Linked DNA regions of Homo sapiens: region 1 is linked to region 2. Evidence: fine-mapped expression QTL. A gene starts in region 2. The other region holds a variant in brackets. All regions are shown on one strand. Distances are from middle to middle. Region 1 holds the start of LOC124901315 (a long non-coding RNA gene). Region 2 holds the start of BTBD9 (BTB domain containing 9).

Evidence for each region.
Region 1: its variant is fine-mapped to the expression of BTBD9 in stomach (GTEx, PIP 0.98).

The regions. Positions count from the first base shown.
Region 1 is chr6:38,172,531-38,183,378 of GRCh38, reverse strand. It overlaps BTBD9 (BTB domain containing 9), which reads left to right. Exons shown (of 11, transcript NM_001099272.2): 11 at 8,197-10,848. The coding sequence ends at 8,394. It overlaps LOC124901315 (a long non-coding RNA gene), which reads right to left and starts at 8,201. Exons shown (of 2, transcript XR_007059571.1): 1 at 7,302-8,201; 2 at 1-6,063. The variant C/T (reference allele first, on the strand shown) is at 5,984.
Region 2 is chr6:38,634,949-38,646,157 of GRCh38, reverse strand. BTBD9 (BTB domain containing 9) reads left to right here and starts at 6,229. Exons shown (of 11, transcript NM_001099272.2): 1 at 6,229-6,358. LOC105375044 (a long non-coding RNA gene) reads right to left here and starts at 5,763. Exons shown (of 3, transcript XR_926767.4): 1 at 5,674-5,763. RefSeq lists enhancers at 5,887-5,966, 5,767-6,267 and a silencer at 6,367-6,566.

The DNA of each region.
Region 1 (10,848 bases), 460 kb after region 2:
TAAGGAGAGTGAACTAGATCTTAAAGCTTCCTTCCCAGTGAGACAGGAAAAAAGGCAGAAAAATATTTAGTTTGTTTCATAATTATAAAAGAAGACCTTTTAGGCCGGGCGCGGTGGCTCACACCTGTAATCCCAGCACTTTGGGAGGCCGAGGCGGGCAGATCACGAGGTCAGATCGAGACCATCCTGGCTAACACGGTGAAACCCCATCTCTACTAAAAGAATTAAAAAATTAGCCAGGTGTGGTGGCGGGCGCCTGTAGTCCCAGCTACTCAGGAGGCTGAGGCAGGAGAATGGCATGAACCCGGGAGGCGGAGCTTGCAGTGAGCCGAGATCGTGCCACTGCACTCCAGCCTGGGCGACAGAGCAAGACTCTGTCTCAGAAAAAAAAAAAAAAGAAGACCTTTTGTGGGCTTCTTTATATTTAAATGTTTGTTATGAAAGATTTTATTGGAAAAAAAGAGAGGAAAAGCAGGACAACATTGAGCACATATGGTTGTTTCAGACACTGCACAATCCTTAGACCTGTCATATTGGAGCAACAATAATTCTCCATCCTCAACTGGCCTGGGAGAAAGTGACCCCAGACCTGGGCAGATGAGTACCCAGGAGCCTCCCAGCAGTGAGACGCATGGAGACAGCAGCTTGTGAGGGTCCCCTCAGATGTGTCCCATTGCTGTGCCAGCAGTGAGGGGTGATGCTGGAAGCCTCGACGCAGCTGGAGCCCTTTGAGACAGAAGGTACATGCGGAGCCTGGTCACACAAAGTGAAGAACCGCCCAGGCAGCTGGAGACACATGGGCCAGCCCTGTGGGGAGAGCAGGGCCATGGCTAGGCTCTCTTGGTGCCTGTCTGGTGTGGGAAGGGGGCCCTGGTGAGGCCACATCTATCAGGTGGGGAGATTCAGGCATCCCAGAAGCCTGCGAACAAGAACACTTCCCTTTTTTTGTTTCTTAGTTTTTCAAAAAAATAACTAAAAGATACCTCTACCACTCTATAGCCGAATCCATTAAGACAAGAAAGTAACTCTCTCCCTGGAACTCTGGAGTGTACACACATAAAAAACAGGGCAGGAATTCCAGGGCTGCCTGGGGTGATAGGGATTGGAAAGCCTCTTCTTCCAGAACCTTCCAAGCATCAGAGTTCCAATTATCTGTGGATATCCTGGCCTATGTGAATATGAGAAAATGATATTGTAAAGTTTTTTTAAAAGCTGTTGCCGTACATAAGCATTGTCACCCAGAAACTTACCTCCATACTTAGTGCAAAAATATTTGGGTATCCTATCACCCTAAGCAATACTGAAAATTTGTTGCTCGCAATTTGGAAATGTCTCCCTATGAAGTAATTCCTAGTTTTGTTTTTTGTTGTGTTTGTTTGTTTGTTTGTCTTTGAGACAGAGTCTCGCTCTGTCTCCCGGCTGGAGTGCAGTGGCGCGATCTCGGCTCACTGCAACTTCCGCCTCCCACGTTCAAGCAATTCTCCTGTCTTAGCCTCCCGAGCAGCTGGGATTACAGGCATCTGCCACCACACCTGGCTAATTTTTGTATTTTTAGTAGAGACCAGGTTTTGACACGTCGGCCGGGCTGGTCTCGAACTCTTGACCTCAAGTGATCCGCCTCTCTCAGCCTCCCAAAGTGCTGTGATTATAAGGTGTGAGCCACCATGCCCGGCCCCTAACTGAAAACAATGTGTTGGGCTGTTCAGATGCACATAAAAAACCAAGGTTTATCAAAAGGGATATTTTGTTGGAGGCACTCGTCTTCATTTTTAAAGAACAAAAACAAAACATCTCTGCAGTCTGTAGATGGACTGTTACCTTCTGCTCTGAGGCGAGCATAAGAGAGATGTTAATGGTGACCATCGTCAGGATCTGTTATGTCACTGAACGCTGGGTGGGTGTGTGATGCCACCACATCAGCCACTGTGAAAGGGAAATAGGGGATCTTTAGGGGAGTGTAAGTTAGAAGTCATGGCTTTGCATCTGACTTATGGACAGACATCAAGAGGTAGATATCTATTTTATAAAGATTTGTCAACTTGTATTTGTAAGTTGAAAACTTGGATCAGAAATCCTATTTGTATTGGTTGGCATGAAAGCAGTCTGTGGAAATTATTCAGGAGGAACCAGGAAAGCAAGGCAGAGTCATTGATCAACATTTATTAAATTTCCCCAATTTCTGCTGCAGTTCACAGTGGACTCTTAGGCCAACTTGGGAAAATTAGCAAAGGCTTCTGCTTTTAAAAACCTTGAAAATTTGTCAAGCAAATAGTGCTTAGGGAATCCCTCTAATGAGAGGCAGCAGCCACCAAGCCACTGAGGAATTAGCCTGGTCACCAAGAAGGGGCTAGCACATTTGTGTACATCCTGTCCAGGATTCACGGGGAAAAGAACACCCAGCCTATCTCCAGTATGTGGTGAATTATGGCTCCCAGAGAGGCAAGGCAAAGTGATCATAAACAGCAGCTACAGAAAAGGACACCCGATTGTGACTGAGGCTGTGTCGGATTCATACACACGACCACATTCCAAATTAGCCGGCTTCTCTCAGGGGAGAGATCCAGAGGCCATTGAAGACGGTTCAGCGAAGGCGCCCCTTTGTGAGCAGCGGCAATCAAACAGGCTAATGGGATACATGATTGCTGAAAAGGGGAAGGGAGACTGATGCGGCGGCCAGAGTAATGGTTTTGCATAAATGAGTAGTGCGGCTCTGCCCAGTGTGTCTCAGCCACATTTGGTCACGTCCTTTCCAAGAGGTATTGCAGTCTTGGGAAAGTTTGGAGAAAAGAAATTGAATCACTTGAGCTTCTGAGCAAAGAGACTCAGGACTTGGCTGTTCCACCTAGAGGGAAGCCCAAAGGTGCCTGGTGGAAAGAAGTGGGCTGAGGAGCTTGGGGTTACGGTGGGAAGGGGAGGGCCACATGCCCAATATTTCCAGATTTCCCCCCTACCATGGCAGTGATGACTTCCTCCAAGCTGCCATCACCCTCCTCCAGCTCCTGTGTATAAAAAGCACTGCCGCCTCCCTTCCCTCACACTCCTCTCCAAGGGCCGGAGGCAGCTTCACGCCCAGCCCCAGCAGCGTGGCCACCAGTGAAGGTGCCAGTTTCCCCACGACAGGCTTGCTTTTCACTCCCGCTCCCAAGAACAGAATCGGGACCACCCACAGGCCCCCCCGAATGCCCATTTGCATTGCGTGCAAATCTGAGGATTTCTGGGATCCCAGGAGAAGTAACCCCAGCCTCGTACATGTTGATGGGCATCCGAGTGGTCCAGGAGCTAGCTGGGTATTGGCTTACACAGTTGCCACATTTGGCTGAAGGCTGCTAGGCTTAAATCATCAACAGAGATGACTGAGGCAGGCACACTGCTCCACAGAGGGGTGACCAGAGTGAATTACAGACAGGCTGCCAGGAGTGAGGTGCCAAGGCCCAGATCTTTATGTGGAAATCTTCTCCTCGTTCCCTTTGCCTGGAAAGCAGCTCCCCTCCCTGCCTCCCAACCCCTCAAGGCCTCACCTGTGCACACCTTCCTCTCTGTAGCCTGCCCTGACCCCTCTTCCAGGCAAAATTAGTTTCTCACACACCTCTGATGTATGAAATATTACTGATCCCGTGCTGGTAGAATTGTTTGTGTGAGGCAGGTATGTTGATACAGTGGAACAGTCCAGGCTTAAGGAAGGCACAGCCCTGAGGTTCATTCCCAGCCTGCCACTCGCCATTTGCAGAAGAGTGAACACAGGCCCCTGCACAGAGGTGCCTCTGCCCCCAACTGCCTGAGAGGTCCTGAGGGCAGGAGCTGCGCTGTGGGCGCACCTGCTGGAGTCTGCACTCAGTGAAATCATTGCAGGGAAAGGGTCTGTGAGAGTCCTTGGCATGAGTGCAGGTCTGAGCTGCTGTAACTGGAGCCCTGGGACCTGCTGCTGCCACCTTCTGTAGCACCGCAGTATGCCCGCCCCCGTCCCTTCCAGGGAACCCTGAGAGTCATTGTGGGCGCTCTCCTTTATCAGTCTCATCCAGTCTGTTACCAAATTCTGATCTTTCTTGATTTGAAAATGACTCCTGCCTATTGATTCCAAATTGCTAAATCAGGGGATTCCAAGGTTTAAAGGTTTGTTGTCATCTAGATTTTTAAAATACTTGTTATTTGAATTTGTCACCACAAATGTATATTCCTTTTTAAATAACTTTTTTAGTTTAAGAAATATTAGTTTTTAAAGAGTCTCGTAGGCTGGGCATGGTAGCTCACGCCTGTAATCCCAGCTCTTTGGGAGGCTGAGGTGGGCGGATCATGAGGTCAAGAGATCAAGACCATCCTGGCCAACATGGTGAAACCCCATCTCTACTAAAAACACAAAAATTAGCTGGGTGTGGTGGCACGTGCCTGTAGTCTCAGCTACTTAGGAGGCTGAGGCAGGAGAATCGCTTGAACCTGGGAGGCGGAGGTTGCAGTGAGCTGAGATAGCCCCCCTGCACCCCAGCCTGGCGACAGAGCGAGACTCTGTCTCATAAATAAATAAATAAATAAATAAATAGCCTCCTTTGTCCAAGAGTATCAGGATCCCTGCCCAGCTTAAGGCCAGGCCCTCGCCCTGTCCCATTGGGTGTGGCCTCTGCCCCACCCCTCCCCCCCACACCCTGCTGCTCCCAGGCCCTCCTTGCTCTGTTGCCACCCTTTGGCTTGAGAACCTGTGTAGTTCTTCCTGTTTTTCTTCCACACCAAGTCCCCCCCTCCTCCATCCTCTCTAGCTTGGCTGCCTCTTCCTTCCAGACTCACCTCAGATGTCTCCTCCCCCAGGAAGCCTTCCCTGACCGCCTGCCTGGCTGGGTCCCACTCCTCTATGCCCTGGGGCTCCTTCTCCCTGGCTTATGTGTCTGCTGGCCTCACTGGACCGTACACCCTCTGAGGGCAGCTGGGACCTCGCCCAGTCAGGCACGTAGGAGGTGCTTCATGCTTGTGGTACGTGTGTACCTCCTGACCCTGCTCACGTGTGCAGCGTCATCCTCTGGCCGTGTCTGCTGCATATGTGATGTTCATCCTGTCTCTGTTGGTGTGCAGAGGCTGTTCCCTCCCCACCTGTCACCTGTAGCTTGCCCACCCCCACCCATGGCAGGTTCTGTGTCTTCACCCGCCTATCCATTTGTAAAAACACTCTTTTCCACTTAGAATCTTCGCCACACAGTTTGTGATTTAATACAGGTAACTCACTCCTGCCTGTGTATTGCCTTTGAATCTGGCAGCACCTGCGTGGCTTGGTGGAGATGCTCAGGGAGACTGCACTTCATTTAGTTGGGATTCTGGGGCCACAGACTGGGACGCAGCTCTGAGATGGCCCCAGTTCCTTGCAGAGCCACAGGGAGCTCAGTCAGGCAGTTACGGCCTAGGGCTTCCAGGGGCTTCCAGGGTCCCCTAACTTGATGGCAGGGCCTGCCGTGAGCTCTGTGGCATCAGGGAGAGAGATAGTTAGGAGTTCTTTAGAAGAAATATCCATAGGAAAACACAGAAGCAGTTGAGATTGGCTGTCAGTCTTGTTAGGTGTGTTGGGAGTAACAGCCATTTGCATTATTATCTGAAAACAAATTGGCTAATGGGCTAAACACAGTTGTGCCCTTAACACTGCCCAAGTTAGACAAGAGATAAATGCAGCTGGAAATGAGAAGAAACAATGAGAACCAGGGCACCGACAGGTCGGGTCGTGGAATGTCTATCACGTGCTCACCACAGACAGCATCTCTTCCCAGGCTCTTACCAGCGCAGTGCGGAGCAGAGACCCGCCCTGATCCCTCCTCCAGTGAGAGGCCGGCTGTGAAGAGCAAGCCGCAGCACCAGGCCACTCTGAGGTCTTTTTTAACTTTATCTCTCAATCCAGGGTTTTTATCGATTTGTTTATTCTTGTGCAAGAACCCGAGCAGGTAGAAGGACGACTAAGCCTTGGTCCTTGAGTCAGATCGGAGCTGACAGATCAGTAGAAGGAGGCAGGCAG[C/T]GGGGTGGGCCACGGAGCGGGAGGCACCCTGAAGGCTTGCGGGGCCGGTGGGGGAAGAGCTGGCCTGGAAATTAACAGGACTGTAGAGAACGTTGCAAGAGCAAAAGGAGAGAAAAACCATTCAATACCAGAGGAGTGAGCTTGAGAAAAGGTAATAAGGAGTAGGACAAACGTAAGTCAATTCCAGGATTAGTGTCAGCCTGAGGCTCTGGGGAGCGGCCTCCGGAGATATTGACCGAGCAGGGAGAGCAGGGATTACACAAATAACCAATTAAAGAACATGGTGGGGCCGGATAAAGAGCTCCTGTGTCAGCAGGGGGAAGGAGCAGTAAAACACAGCCTGTCCTGAAAAGTCCTGCGTGTGGGCGTGGGAACAGAATATGGCTCTGGGTCATACTGCAAAAGAGAAGGCGTATTTGCTGGGTTATGAGAAGCTTTAGTGGGGGGGGTGTTGAGGACCGGGACTGCACTCTCAAGGCGTGTCCTGGCCCCGCAGAGCCTGACCTCACCTATCCCTGGGTGTGGAAGAAGGAACACTTATAAGGCAAGTGACCCATGAGTGGCCGACATGCCCAGGGCGGTGTTGTTACTGAAGAGCTGCAAGATTGTGAAGCTGATGAAGGAGTGGATTAATGGTTGTCACCTAGAGGATGATTCTCAGATTCCCCTGGCCTAGCCCAGGGCAGAGCTGATGGCCCAAATAGTGTTCAGATCTCCACATAAGGCCTTCCCCTAGGACCTAGCCCCTCCAGTTGTTGACTGGTAAGCCCTGCAGATGGACCCACAGAAGGAGATTTTATAAAAAAGGAAGGAAGGAAAGAAAGGAAAAGGAGGGAGACATAGGCTAAGTGGGGACAGCTTCAGCCGTGAGGCAGTGAGGGGTCTGCAGGAGGCGAGGACCGTGCCTGAGCCCCTGCCCTATAAGGAGAGAAATCAGCTCCCTCTAAGAGAAAATGGCAGCTCCCAAAACAGAGTGGACACACCAGGAAGACACGGTCTCAGTCTTCATATGAGAAAATGTGAAATTTAAAACAGTGGTCAATAAATGAATTGAAGTGGGAATATGGAAAAAACAGTGATGCAGGGAGGTAAGCGTGGAATTTATATTTTCAATATAATTCTGCAGTTGATACTACATTTGTCTCTGTGAACTTGATTCTACGGTAGAAGGCCGTGTGTATGTATGTGCACACATGCTCGTGCAGTGGCAACGACAGCCCCCACCCCGCCCTTCTCTCCTGCACCCCACAGCTCACACATGCATGTCAGGACCCCCCGAAGCACGTTGTCTACTCTCCAGGTCAGGGCCATGGCTTACCCTTGCTTGCGGGGCGCTGAGCTCGGTGCTGTGCCCTGTCTGCACAGTGCTGGCACGGTGTTGGCACAGAGTTCATGGTGCTTCCAGGCTGACCTGCTGTCAGGTATGCAAACTCTTCTTAGCTCCTAGAGGGTGACTGTCGGCCAGGTGGCTGGCTTCTACACATTGGGGGCGTTTGTTCCAGGCTGGCTGGAGCCACATGAGGTTGAAGTCCACTCCCCAGCACGGCTGCTTAGCAGGGTCTGTGCTCAACCATTGCAGGGCCAGGAGAACTATGCATCAGGAACCAGCTCAGGACAGGACACCATGCCATTGCAGGGCACGCTCACACACATTCACATGCACTCAGACTGGGACCCTGCAGACACACCAATGAACCTCAAGTGCACAGCTTTGGGACGCGGGAGAAAACCAGAATACCCAGAGACAACCCACGCAGATGCCACACAGATGGTGGACGTTATCTGTGGACCTGCTTTCCACAACCTCACAGAATCGAACCACCACCACCACCACCACCAGTCAACTCCTGTTGACTTTTAACCCAACTGCCAAATACAAAAATTAATTAAAAAAGAAAAAAGAGCCCATTAGACAAAGGTTGGCAAAAACGGAGTAATCCAGTGTGAAGATTTTGTGGGAATCCGTGTCATGGTGTCTCTAACTTTTGGGCCACTGGCTCATTTCCTTTCCTCTTGACTGATCAAAATGTGTTTACAGCATGCTAGTTGCCATCAGGTGTCTGCGCCGGGGCAGGCGTGGGCAGTGGGAAGGACCTCCTCTAACTCCCTCGTGGTGGCCCCCAAAGCTGGGCAGGGCAGTATCCCAACTTGCGGCAACTCCAGGGCCGCATGCTGACCCTTCACTCATGGGGTCTTTTCCTTTTCTCTCCCAGGTGTTCCACTGTGTCCACTTTGAGTGTCCAGAGCAGCAGAGCAGCCAGAAGGAGGAAAATAGTGAGGAATCGGGGACAGGGGACACCAGCCTGGCCGGTCAGCAGCTCGACTCCCATGCGCTGCGGGCGCCTAGTGGCAGCTCACTACCCTCCAGCCCAGGCTCCAACTCACGCTCCCCCAACCGGCAGCACCAATAAAGGAGGCAGCGGGCCTGGTGTGACTTGGTGGGCTCGGGCAACGGCAGGAAACGGTCTCCTCCCTGAGCAGGGGTCTCTGTTGACTGCCCCCACCTCTGCCCCTTTCCAGGGAGGAGCCGACCTAGCTGCAAAAGCAGACACCGAACAGGTTTTCTCCCAAGGACAGAAAGGGGCTGCTTTGTTCTTCTCAATTTATCCAAATCAGGCAGGTCTCAAGGGGGAGAAAATGGGTCTTCAATCTTCATCAAGTCCACCATTAACACCCTACCTCTCTAATCTAGCCCAGGCGCAGGGAACAGGAGGAAGTCATAGACAGGCCTGTGTTGGAATACAAAAATGGCACGCAAACACTCAGGCGGAGGAGAAAGCCATTGGGCCTTTGCTACCTGGAGGCACCCTTTAGGAATGGGCCTCCATAGAGTGTTCATTCTGCTGGAATACATTGCCCTGGCAACTAAATGATTTTTTATTTGTTTTAGTTATTCTCCACTCAGTGAATCATAGGTGTTCCGGATCTATTTGAAATGCTCAAACAGCAAATCACTAGTTTTAATCCCTTTTGATGCTATAATTTTCCTTCCTTGGTTTTGAACGGTTCAGCTTGCGGGGACAGAGACCCATCGTGCATGTCTCCTAAATGAGACACGGATGCAGCTCATCCTGGCACTTGGGCCACAGAGGAAGTGCCACAAATGCACACAAGCAAATCAACCTGTGGACACTGGAGTTAATAGTCACTCGTGTGGCTGAGTTACTCACCTGTCATTCCTGACATGGATCCAGCCTTTAAGCTTGGGAGGCTGACAAGGAAATAGTTACTATGCCCGCTGCTAATTCACTGTTCCGAAGTCCATGTAGATAAACATATACCGAGTTCTGGCGTGGCCAAACCTGCCGGGGACTGCCGTGGCTTAGCTGCCCCTCCAGTTGTGTTTATCGAAGCATTGGAGAGGCAGCCACCTGCCCATCAGCGTCAGGAACGCAGAACTGGGACTCCGTGCTTCCCCCACACCACAGTACTCAACTGGGGACTGAAAAATAGCAGTTCCAAGAAGCTTTTCTCCTAATCCTCATCAAAAGGACCTCATTTGACGATGGTGGCTTGATGTGGCTCCGTCTCCTACTTAGTGATTTCCATTCCAGTGCTGCCTGCCCTGGGTAACTGCGCACAACATTGCCTGCCCCTCCGCTGTCCCCAGAGCTCCGGCCTCTGTCGCCATCAGCATCAGCCTGGGAGTCTCCCCAGGACGGCATGGCACGTGAGCAGCACTGCAGTCCTTGGGTCTTCGGCGCCAACCTGCAACCCTGATCAAAGGAGGGTGAGGGCGTGGGAGTTTCCTTTCAGGTGTGTCAAAGACATATCAGCTGCGCTCTAGAAAGAGCCAACGGGTCAGCCGCTTCCTCCTAGTTTAACTTGATTTTGAGTGATTTGTCCATATGGAAATAGTAGGGTAGCATCAAACTGCGTGATTAAATTGGAAGACTGTCTTTCCGTGTGAACACAGGATGGCAGACATCAGAGGGCTACCGGGGCAGGGTGGACACGTTCCTGAGGAGAAGCCAGGGTCTGCAGCTCTCCATCCTCCCCGGTAGCTCCAGCTGCAGGGCTGAGCTGCTTCCTATCCCCTCAGCTCTGATCTCTGCCACTTCCCTGTTGTGTGGGAGAGTGGAACACTCCTGGGATGCCAGGCATTTCATAATGGGAGGAGGCTCCTGTAAGGAACGGTGGGCGCCCGCTCACAGTGGGGGGCCCTCCAGCATGGTTGCTGACTCTGTCAGCCCCCAGCCCCGGGTTGCCAATTAGCCAGAGAGCTCCTGCACACACAGCACTTCCTTCCCCAGTGTGTTTTCTACCCAGATGGGGACAAAGGAGCCAGACAGTCATATCAAGGGCAGAGTTCAAACATTTTGAAATGAGCCATTCACATGCTTCTTTTTAAACATGGGCATCACCTGCCCAGAGGCCCTTGGCCTGAAGCAGCATGCTGCTGACCTTGGGAAGAGAGGGTGGGCTGGTGGGGGTGCTGGAGGAGCTGCCCGGCCCTGCATCTGCAACCCTCCAGTCCCCTGCCCACAGAGCACGCAGAGCCCTCCTGTGCTCCGGGAACGAGATAGCAGCTTGGCAGCTCGGCCTCGCATCTGAAAAGGAATACGCTGCAAAGCCTCGGCCCTAGACCCACATCTGCAGCTCCCTGGCCTGTGGCGGTTCTTTCCTTCGGGGCATGCCCTTCCAGATCTCTGTCCCTCCTGTCTTCTAGCACTTTAAAGATGCCCCTTATCATCAGATAAAGAGAAGTATGGGGACGATGGGGTGGCACTAACAGTAGATGTCATTGGTGAGGACTGATGGCAAAGTCTCATTCCCTCACAGCCGCGCTGCCAGCTCGCCTCCCCCTCGCTTTGCTGGGAGCCTGCCCTGGACTCCAAAAGGACACGGGTTCACCTCCTTTCCCA
Region 2 (11,209 bases):
TCTTTAAAAAAAATTCCCATTAGTTACCAATATTTAGAGGTCAACAGATTTCAAATCTGGCAACTTTGGATGCTTATACCACATAGCAACAATCTGCTGGGCTGAGTATAGAGTACTTACCCACCTGCCTAGGCCATTTAGGCATTAGAATGCTCTGTTGGAGAATGATCAAAATTTGGATTGAAATTTTTCAAAGAAGAAATGATCAGTTGCTCACTCTGACGGTAGGAAAATCTAATTAATGCTCCCATGAAATGTATGGCTTTTAGCAAAGTGGCTGGCCAGTAAATCTACCTGGAAGAATTACTTGCAAAACATACCCTTAAGTAAATAAATTAACGTGGTATTTAGTTACTGGATCTAAGCCAATTAAATTTGAGGACATGTGCCCTAAAAAATTATTTTAGTTTTGGAACAGGTGATCTTGATCCATTCCTTCTGATAAACGGTGAGCAACAAAATCAGCCATAAAGTTTATTATAATAAAATATCATCAGCATATAGGAAGATAATGGGTTTTTTGATTTCTAAAGCGAGGGAGCATGTGTCCAAATAACCTAAAAGTGGTTTCAAATTACTTAAACATAAGTTAAAAACAAGAAGGGCTACAACTATTTTATGCTACCTAAAATACTTTTTGATCCGTCTGAACAATTCTATTGATCTGGACTTTCCAGGTCATACAGAAGTCTTGGTTTTATATGAACCTGGATTCTATATTTAACTCATGCAACTTAACCTGAAACCAGCTCTTATTCACAGAGTCAAAGCATGAGAAATCATTTGAAGCTTCAAACGTTCTTTTAAGAACAAAGTTTATTTTTCTAATTATAAAAATTATCATTGTACATTGTCAACAATTTGGAAAATAAAGAAAATTTACATTATTTTTCTCTCAACTATTTATTTTTAAAAATTTCAAAGCAACAGAATACAGATATGCAGGCCAATTCACCCACTTACAAACGCTGAGCCAACAAATTTACTCAGAGCTTCTTGGCAAAGTGAAAAGTGAAAAACAGGCAGTTATATAATTCACATTGCCTATAAAGAGAAAACACATCAGTTACTCAAGGGTAGCCAAATATTTCATGACTTGTGGCTCAGAGAGAAAATTCTCTTGTGTTCATATGAGGAACACAGAGTGATATCACACACAACAACCTGTCAACTATGCCTTCTAGAATTCCTCAGTATAAGGGAAAGGGTACATAGTATGAAGCCTGGGGGGTTAAAAGCATGGATTCGAATCCTAGCTTTATCACTTATTAATTGTACCTTGAGTAATTACTTAACTTTCTATGCCTTGGCTTCCTGTTTTATAAAATATTGTGAATAATATCACCTACTTCAAAGGGCAGTTATGAGGCTTAAATGAACTAATGCCTACAAAACACTTAAACATAGATAACATAGGTGCAAGTACTATGTATCTGGTACATGGTAAACATCCTTATTATTAAAGTCAACGCTAAAATGAATGTGTGTGCATATGCTAATAGTACAGAGAGAGGGCACTTAAACCAACTAAGGGCCTGAGGGAAGGTTTCCTGGAAAGAGGATGCTTGTGCTGGGTCCAAATCTTGGTCTACTATGACCTTGGCCAAATTATTTAAACTTTGTCCCTATCTGCTAAAACAGATACTTTGTCAGTGATCTATACAATAAGCTAATGTTTACAAAATTAAGTAAGATAATACATGAGGATTAGACAAGCAAATGTATTAAAGCATGGCATTAGTGACAAAAAATATTTCCTCTTGAATCTACTGGAAAAATATAAATTATTCTTGCATTTAACTTTTATTTGTGTCCATTTTAACAACTAACCAATTTTAGTTTAGAAACAGTTATATATAAATATTCATTTAGATCACAACAAAACTACCTAGAAGGAATGTTAGGTGACAACGCTGGTTTAGCACAATTCTCCTGTTCTTTTTTTACCTCCATGGAAATGCCTTAATATATTTGTGTCCATTTTTGAGGCATACTGTGTTTACTTAACAGTGTAGGTAAGTACAACACTCTTGACTTCCATTAGATAGAGCTAACTGCGCCCTTATCTGTATCACTTTATATATCCCTCATTTCACTTCATACAGATTCTGTTATAGTATATTGTATTATACTTACAATATATTTATATCTAGCTTTTAGGGTCTTGCTCTGTTGCCCAGGCTGAAGTGCACTGGCACAGTCATAGCTCACTGTAATCTGGTAATAGCTCACTGTAACCTCAAACTCCTGGGCTCACCCAATCCTCTTGCCTCAGCCTCCCAAGTAGTTAGAACTGCAGGTGCGCACCACCACACCTGGCTAATTTTTAGAAAATTTTTGTAGAGATGGGTGTCTGGCTATATTGCCCAGGCTGGTCTCAAACTCCTGGCCTCAGGTGATCTTCCCATTTTGGCCTTCCAAAGCACTGGGATTACGGGGCATGAGCCACCACAATCAGGTCTATCTTATTATTTTTTATTTTTATTTATTTACTTATTTTAATTTTTTTTTTGAGACAGAGTTTTGCTCTTGTTGCCCAGGCTGGAGTCCAATGGCGAGATCTTGGCTCTACACAACCTCTGCCTCCCGGATTCAAGTGATTCTCCTGTCTCAGCCTCCTGAGTAGCTGGGATGATGGCATATGCCACCATGCCCGGCTAATTTTTGTATTTTCAGTAGAGACGGGTTTTCATCATATTGGTCAGGCTGATCTCAAACTCTTGACCTCAGGTGATCTACCCGCCTCGGCCTCCCAAAGTGCTAGGATTACAGGCATAAGCCACCGCGCCTGGCCTTACTTTTTTTTCTTTTTTTTTTTTTAAAGAACTATGACAGCTAGTTACATACTTAGTATTTCTCTCTCTCTCTCCAAATTGTGAGTTCCTTGAAAACTGTGTTATAGCCATAGTATCTAGGACAGAAGCTGGCATGAAATATACTGATTCTTAGTGGTTGGAAAATGGTCTGAGAAGGATTTGAAGTGTGCTGTTATAAGCAAGTGAGTCTGATATGAAATTGGGGTGATTGAGCCCGGGGGTTGAGGCTGCAGTGAGCCAAGATTGTACCACTGCACTCCACACTGGGCAACAGAGCAAGATGCTGTCTCAAAAATAAAAAATAAAAATAAATAAAAGTATTGAATCAGATATGACAAAAAATAAAAAAATAAAACTGGGGGGATTATCTAGGAATTAATGAGAAAATCATAGACTCAGCTTGATCTCATCCTTTGCCAGATGCGAAAACCAAAGCCTGGAGTAGTTGAGGGATTTGTTCAAAGTTATCTAGCTAGTTAATGGCCAGAATCAAGACTAGAATCTCAAAACTCCCATCAAACTAGTCTAGAGGCCAATCCACTATATTGATCTGCCTTTCAGATCTCAGTGATTTGGTATCTATCTCCACTATCCCACTGAAGTTTGCTATTGTTGGTTACCAATCACTTTTCTGTTGCTAAATCCAGTGAATGCTTTCCAGTTCTTGATATACTTGGCCTTTTTGTGGTCTCTGACTCTGTTGACCCCTCTCCATCTTGCTTGCTTGGCTTCAGAGGCATTAGGCTCACCTAGTTCTCCTTTTCTCTCTCTGGCCATTCTTCCTCAGACTTCTTTTTGGGCTTCTGATCATCTGCACCTCCTTTTAAAGTTAGTGCTCTCCAGGGGCCCTATCCTTGCCTCTCCTTATTATGTCTTCTGTATTTTCTCCCTGATTGATCTCATCCATGCCTCGGGCTTAAATTACCAATTATTAATTTATTTCTTCCAAATCTATTTTAACTCAACCTCTTTCCTCATTCATAGACCTGTACAGTTTGAGTGTTTATTGGACATTTTTCTCTAGATGTGGAGGTTCCATCAGGTCACAGTCATATTGCTATAGTCTCTGAGGGGACCTACTGAATTGTACCCTTCTTTTCCAGGTAATGGAGAAAGCTGCAGGAAACCAACTATTATCTTTATTACTGACTGTATCAGTTTCCTATTGCTGTTGTAACAAGTTAGCACAAACTTGGTACCTTAAAACATACAAGTTTCTTATCTCGCAGTTCTAGAAGTCAGAAGTCCTAAAATCAAGGTGTTGGCAGGGCTGTGTTCTTAGGGTGCTAGAGAAGAATCCATTTCCTTGCCTTCTCCCGCATCTACAATTTGCTTGCGTTTCTTGGGTCCATCTTCAAAGCCAACAGTATAGCATCTTCAAATCTCTGTCTGACCTCTGCTTCCATCATCACATCTCCTTCTCTGACTCTGACCCTCCTGCCTCCAGCCCAGTCAGACAATCCAGGATAATCTCCCTAGATACATCATTTAATCATATCTGCAAAGTCCCTTTTGCCACATAATATAACATATTCATGGGTTCTGAGTATTAGGGTGTGGTCATCCTTTTTTTTTTGGTTGGGGGGGATCATTATTCTGTGTAACACAGCTGACAAAGCTGGTATTAAATATTATCTGTGGACAGACAGCTTCCTAATGCCAAACTCTGGAATTAAATACATATACTCTCTTTGTAGCCCTGGACTAGGCACCCTTGTCCCTACCCACAGGCCCTGCTCCAGAAGAAACGGAAAAGAACACCAGGACAGTTCCCTGAAGATAGTTATCTTTTAAGAGAAAAAGAATGGGATAGATGCCACATGTCCAGTTTCTCCCATTTAAGTTCACCAATCAGGAAGTCACTCCTCTAGGCAAGAGTGAGTTGCAGACAGGTATAAGAGAAACCAGGAGAGTATTACACTAATGGATATCATTCCATATGGAAGAAAGACATTGTGAATGGAGAGTAAATGTTTCCCTAACAAACATATCCATATTTGAACTCATCATCATACTCCACATATCTGGTCATCCTCCTAAGAAATGTCACCATCACTATCTATAATAGTAACTTAGACACTTGTGGATAATCAAGACTCATGTAGCTTGCCATCTTGCTAAATGTTACCACTGTCTACCTCAGCACTCATGCTAGAAACCTGGCCTACTCATTTATCCGCACTCAGTGCTGTGAATTCTACCACCTTAATGGCGCTAACATCTATCCCCTCCTCTATTCCCACTGCCAATGCCTTGTTTAATGTTCTTATCACTTGTCTGGAGTACTGCAATGGCCTAAAAATGGGTCTCCCTGCCCCAAGCCTTGCTTTTCCTGACCATTTTCACTTTCTACTTTTACTCATGAAGCTTCCTTTGCCCGGAATTAAGTCCTTCCCAATTTGTCTCCTCCAACAACTGCAAGGGCGGTCCCCTAGCTTGCTCCAGCGTCGGGGATAACTGACTTTCCTACACCAGCTACAGTCAGACCTGCACCCGGATTTCTAGGACTCTTATCTATGTAGATAGATAAATACATTTTTTTGAGACAGTGTCTTGCTCTCACTGCAGAGGCTGGAGTGCAGCGGCGCGATCACGGTTCACTGCAATCTTGAACTCCCCAGGTTCAAGCGATCCTCCCACCTCAGCCCCCCGAGCATTTGTGACTACAGGCGCGCGCCAACATGCCCATTTAGTTTTTGTCTTTTTTGTAGAGACGGGGTTTCACTATGTTACCCAGGCTGGTGTCGAACTCCTGAGCTCAAGCGATCCGCCCACCTCGGCCTCCCAAAGTGCTGGGATTACAGGCTTGAGCCACCAAGTCAAATGGGCTTTATACTTACAAAGTACCTTTGCATACCTTATTTCATTTTCACCTCACAATTCTCCAGCGTAGGCTGGACCGGTATTATTATGCCCATTTACTGAGAGAGGAAACTGAGAGTCAAGGCTGGGCCAGTCACACCCTGCTGCGAAATTAACGAGCATCACTTAGCAGCCTCGACATTAACCGCGCTCGCGCTCTCATCCCTTTCTGGTCCTACTCCTTGGAGAACCTTCCTGCACCTCCAAGAACTTGCCGATCGGGTCTGCGGCGGTCTGGACGAGGTCACTCCACAGGCGCCCAGGACCTTCTCATCCGTAGTGACGTGCGCCGGTGACGCCATACAGTGACGTGTGGTGACTCGACTTACCCGGAGCCAGGTGCCGGCAGGGCAGCCACACCCTGGGGCCCCCTGTTCTGGAGGGGCAGAGGGTCGGGCCGATGCGAAAAAGCCGCGGAAGCTGCCTTAGGCGACTTTCTGGGCCTGCATCGCCGGACCCAGCAGCCCGCTGTCGATCGGTTGCTAAGTGACGCCAGCGCGCAGTGGCGCGTGCGCGGCCACGGCGGAGTGCGTGAAAGCGGACGCGCGCCGCAGCAGCCGGGGCGGCGGCGAGGACGGCGGCCACGGAAGCGGCCAAGGGGGCGGTGGCGCAGAGAGGGGTGCGGAGCGGGCGGAAGAGGCGTCTGTGTCGCAGCTTGGTCTCAGAGGAGCATCGCTGGGGTGAGTAGCCGGGTCCTTGCAGGGGAGGTGGGGCCTGGCCGCACCTGCGGCGCGGGGACGCGCGCCCCCGCCGTATCCGCGCGCACCGCCCCCCGCCCCTCCGCCGCTTTTTCCGGGGGCGGGGGAGGAGCTGGGACGGGGCCTGACGAGGGTCATTTCTTGGGCCCGGGTGCTCTGGGAGAGCGGTAGCCGTCCCGTTCGCAGTCCACGAAGGTGTAGTGGGAAGTAGACGTTTCGGGGATTCGGGGTGGCTCTACCAGCCTCCCAAAGAGAGGAGTTCGAATCAGGGGCAGCCCAGGTTCCCTAGCAGTCTCGTATCCTGTCTGAGACGACGTTGCCTGGGACTGAGGAGGCGAAACCCGGGACCCCGGGGTGGGGGTTTGGAAAGTTTGGGACTGCTGGGGCCCTCATCTCCCCTGCCCTGGCCAGCCTCTGAGTAGGAGCTGGTTGTTATGGAGAGAGTTGTGAATCAGTGCCTGCGTGCGGCATCAGACACACCCACGACCTTGGGAGGGCGACCTGTCAGTATAGATCCGGGGCAGCCAACCTGTTGCCTAGAGTTTCTAACTTCACATGTATGTGCATGTGTTTCCTTGGCGTTTTAGTACATTGTTGTTACAGATTTTGAGACCAAGGTGCTGATAGGCATCCTCATTTCTTACTTCCTCATAGACTTAGTTATCTTGCTATATTTCCCAGAACCGTGTTGTGCTTTTGTCATTAGTAGATCCAAGGAAGTATGGAAGCATGTTTTGTTTGTTTTTCCTAAAGGCAGTACAGGCTGCTATTTTCTGGGCAGAAAATACGGATTCTGTTCACTGTGTGGGCGGAAAGTGTTGATGATGGGAGAACCCAGCATGTAAAGGTGTAGCTCATCCTCAGCCCTGTGCTGTCTTCTCAGTGCTCTGGACTCTATCATGGGTAGATGTATAGGGGTTGTGGTTACCATACTTGGGAGCGAGGAATATTGGAGACAGGGAAGAAGCCAGTCTTTTCTTTCTGTTGATTAAGGCAATTTGTAGAACCAGTGAAAAGATAGGCTGTACTGAAATCTAATGTTTTGTGTAAGAGGATAGAGGAAAATAAGTTCAAGGTTCTCATTTAGGTCTAAAATTCTATGATTCTGTTTCATAACTGAGAATCTGTAAAGTATGTTACCTCTTGGAACCAGTAATAACCTTGCTTTGTAACACTTATTAGATTACTCGGAATTCAAAGTGTCTTCCTCCCTCCACTGTAATAGCTTTTAGGACAGGAGTCATCTGTGTTTTCCTCCTTGCCCTATGTCTAACACATAGGAAAAATGTGCTTGCCACAGAGTAGGCATGCAATGGATATTTGTTATATAGCACACTATGCTCAAGTGGTGTATCTATGTATAGAAAGCATTGAGTTCAGTCCATCAAGTACTTAATACATGTGCCTCCCTCTGCCCAGTATCATGATAGGTGTGGGAGGAGGATTATGGAGTGAAAAATGACATAGAAGACCTGTCTTTTTTTTCCCTTTGAGAGCAGTAGTCTAGCTAGGAGATGTATAAAATAATTATAAAACCAAGTTAAGTAGCAGGTAACCAGTGCTGTTTGAGGACTATAAATGTGGTAGAAAATCAGAAAAGATAGGATGTGTAGGCTGAGTTAGGGAACTCTTTGAAAGAGGCAAGATTTGACTTGGTCTCTGAAAGAAGTTAAAATTTGTTAGGAAATAAACCAGGAGCTGAGAAAATAATAATGTGAATTTGGTTGTTGGAGGATATACCAAGACGACTTTTATGTCTGGTAACTGGAGCGGAACGTCTCTTATAGGGGAATACTGGAGAGAGATGGCTTAGCAGGTTGGGAAGGCAAAGTGTTAAGGATTAAGGCGGGCTTATCAGCATCCCACTGTTAACAAGATACAGCCTTCTTGTAAGGTGGGATAGAGGTTGTATTAATCAGAGTACAGTCTTTGACAAGAATAAGTGTTATCCTTACTTGAAAGTAAAGGATATTACGCTTGAACCAATATCAGGTTGTTAATATACTTTTGATTTCAATTACTAATTGGAATCGATGCCTCACTAATGTGCATGTATTTTAGGTAGTCAGTGGTGCATGTCTCATTATCTAAAATCTACCTGATGTACTTGGGCCATTGTATTGGAAATTTACTGAAATGATGTACCAATAGTCATCCAGTCACACTCAGTGACATAGTTTTGCTTGGGATTATCTCTCTGAGGTTTGTCTTTACTGCTGATCCTGTAAAATATACAAATGTTAGTTGGGAAAGGAGTCTTTCTGATGAACGATGCTTAAAAATACTGACCAAAGAGATTTCAGAATAATTAAAGACCCTGCTGCTGAATATTGAACCCTTGGTCTTTATTTATAACATCTTCTGTTATGTGAAAATTCTTTTGAGTGGTATGTAAACCTGAAGTTGAATTGCTAACCAAGATGTGTAAAGTTACAACTGCAAATGTTGCATTATTTAACAACTCAGCAGATACTTACTGGGTGCTGGCTATGGCGAGACACTTCGTTGGGTGCTGGGAAGACAAAGAAGTTAAGACACAGTATATGCTCAGCATACTAAGTGTTCATCAGAAGAGATAAACCACTAACCATTATGTGCTGTGACAAATTAATCACTTTTGGAATGAATAATGTGCTGGGGGAGTAGAGTGCTTTGGCTGGAGAAAAAACTGATAGGGAACATGTTGAGAAGAAGGGGATGGAGCTTAGCTCTGAGGGTTAAATAAAATTTCGCCACATGTAGAGGTGGAAGAGAGCATTCCAGGGGCCAGCATAAGCAAAGTTGCTGAATATTAAAATTAAATAGCGCTTTTGGAAATATCTTGAGTTGTTTCTTGTGGGCAAGAGAGGGGAGAGGGCTGAACTCATCTCAAGAACCCATTCCTGAGATAATGAACCCATTCCTGCTATAATGGCATTCATCCATTCATGAGGGCCTAATCACTTCTTATTGCATGGGGGAAGTGATGAGGCAGGAAGCTGTTTTTGGAGCCAAATTATGAGGGGGTCTTCCACTTCATCCTAAAAAGTCTAGACTCCTCCCATCCATTGGCAGTGGAGAGCCATAGAAGGTAGAATAATCAGAAAGTTGACAGTTCGTGTGCAGATTGCATTAGAGTAGAGAGGCAGGGAGACTAGAGTGTAGGTGAGAAATGTTGGACAATGGGAATGGATAGATTTTGGAGACATTTTTAGATGTTAAAATCTCTACATTTATGACCAGCTAGAGGTAAGGGAGAGTGAGAAGTCAAAGATAATATGTCTAGTTTGAGCAACTGTTTGCTTATGATGACATTAAGTTAGAAATCACAGGAAGAGGAACAGGTTTGAAGTGGAGAGAAGAAATAATGGCAGTGTTAATTCTGAGGTTTCTGTGGGGAGTTTAAAAAGAGAGATCCACTAAGTAACTGGAAATGCTACTTCAGAGTTTATGAGATGGTTAGGGACAATTGTAATATAGATGTCCGCTGAGGCTGTGGGAGTAGCAACCTTCTAGGAGGCATGTTAGTATAGTAGTTAACTTAGTGGACTTTGGAGTTAGGAAGATGGCAGGTCAAATCTCTGTTATGCTGTTTATTGGTTGGCTGACCTTTGGCAAGTTATTTAACTTCTCTAAGCCTAGGCTTCTTATCTGAATTAAAGAATTGTGGAGATTATACATGTGCACAGTGATTAACACAAAGGTACTATGTGCACAGTGATTAACACAATGCCTGTCTTATAGATGCTTAATATAATAAATGGCAGCTGTTGCTGTTATTGTTAGTAGTAGTTATAGATGTAGAGATAGTAGGAGAGGCCCCAATGCCAGAAAAATGGAGAGTGAGAACTGGAAAAGATGGTGAATGGAACTTTTGGACGTTTAAATCAGTATTTAAACTTGGATCAGTTCTTGTCTTTGTTTTGTGCTGCTATTTCATATTTTATGTTTCATAATGGCAGCACAAAACAAACTAAGACAAGAACTGATCTAAGTTTAATTTATAAAGAACAGTCTGGTTAATTTATAAAGAACAGAAATTTATTTCCTGATAGTTCTGGAGGCTAGGAAGTCCCAGATCAATGTGCCAGTATCTGGTGAGGGCCTTCTTGCTGTGTCATAACATGGCAGAAGGCATCACATGGGTGAGAGAGAGAGGGAAGGGGGCTGAACTGATCATGTCAACCTATTCCCACTCTACTGGCATTAATTCATTCATGAGAAAAGAGTCTTCATGGCCTAATCACTAAAGATCCCACCACTCACTGCTGTTGCATTGGGGAATCATGTCTCCTCTAACACATGGAGGACACATGCAAACCATAGTAGTTCTAAAATTTGAAAATGCATTGGGTAGACCTGGAGGTGGCCAGGTGTGGTGGCTCATGCCTGTAACTCCAGCACTTTGGGAGGCTGAGGTGGGTGGATCACTTGAGGTCAGGAGTTTGAGACTAGCCTGGCCAACATGGTGAAACCCTATCTCTACTAAAAATATAAAAATTAGCTGGGTGGGGTGGTGCACACCTGTAATCCCAGCTACTCAGGAGGTTAAGGCAAGAGAATCGCTTGAACCCAGGAGGTGGACATTGCAGTGAGCCGAGATTAGGCCACTGCACTCCGGCCTAGGTGACAGAGCGAGACTCCATCTCAAAAAAGAAAAAAAAAAAGAAATAGCTGGAGGCTTTGGTAAAGCACAGATTTCTGGGTCCCACCCCCATAGTTTCTGATTAAGTAGGTGTGGACTGGGGCTTGAAAAATTGCATTTTTGAACAAGTTCCCAGGTGATGCTGATGGTGCTGTTAGAGGATAGATGAAAGAAAAGGAACCAGCACTAACAAAGTGGTTGAAGTGTAT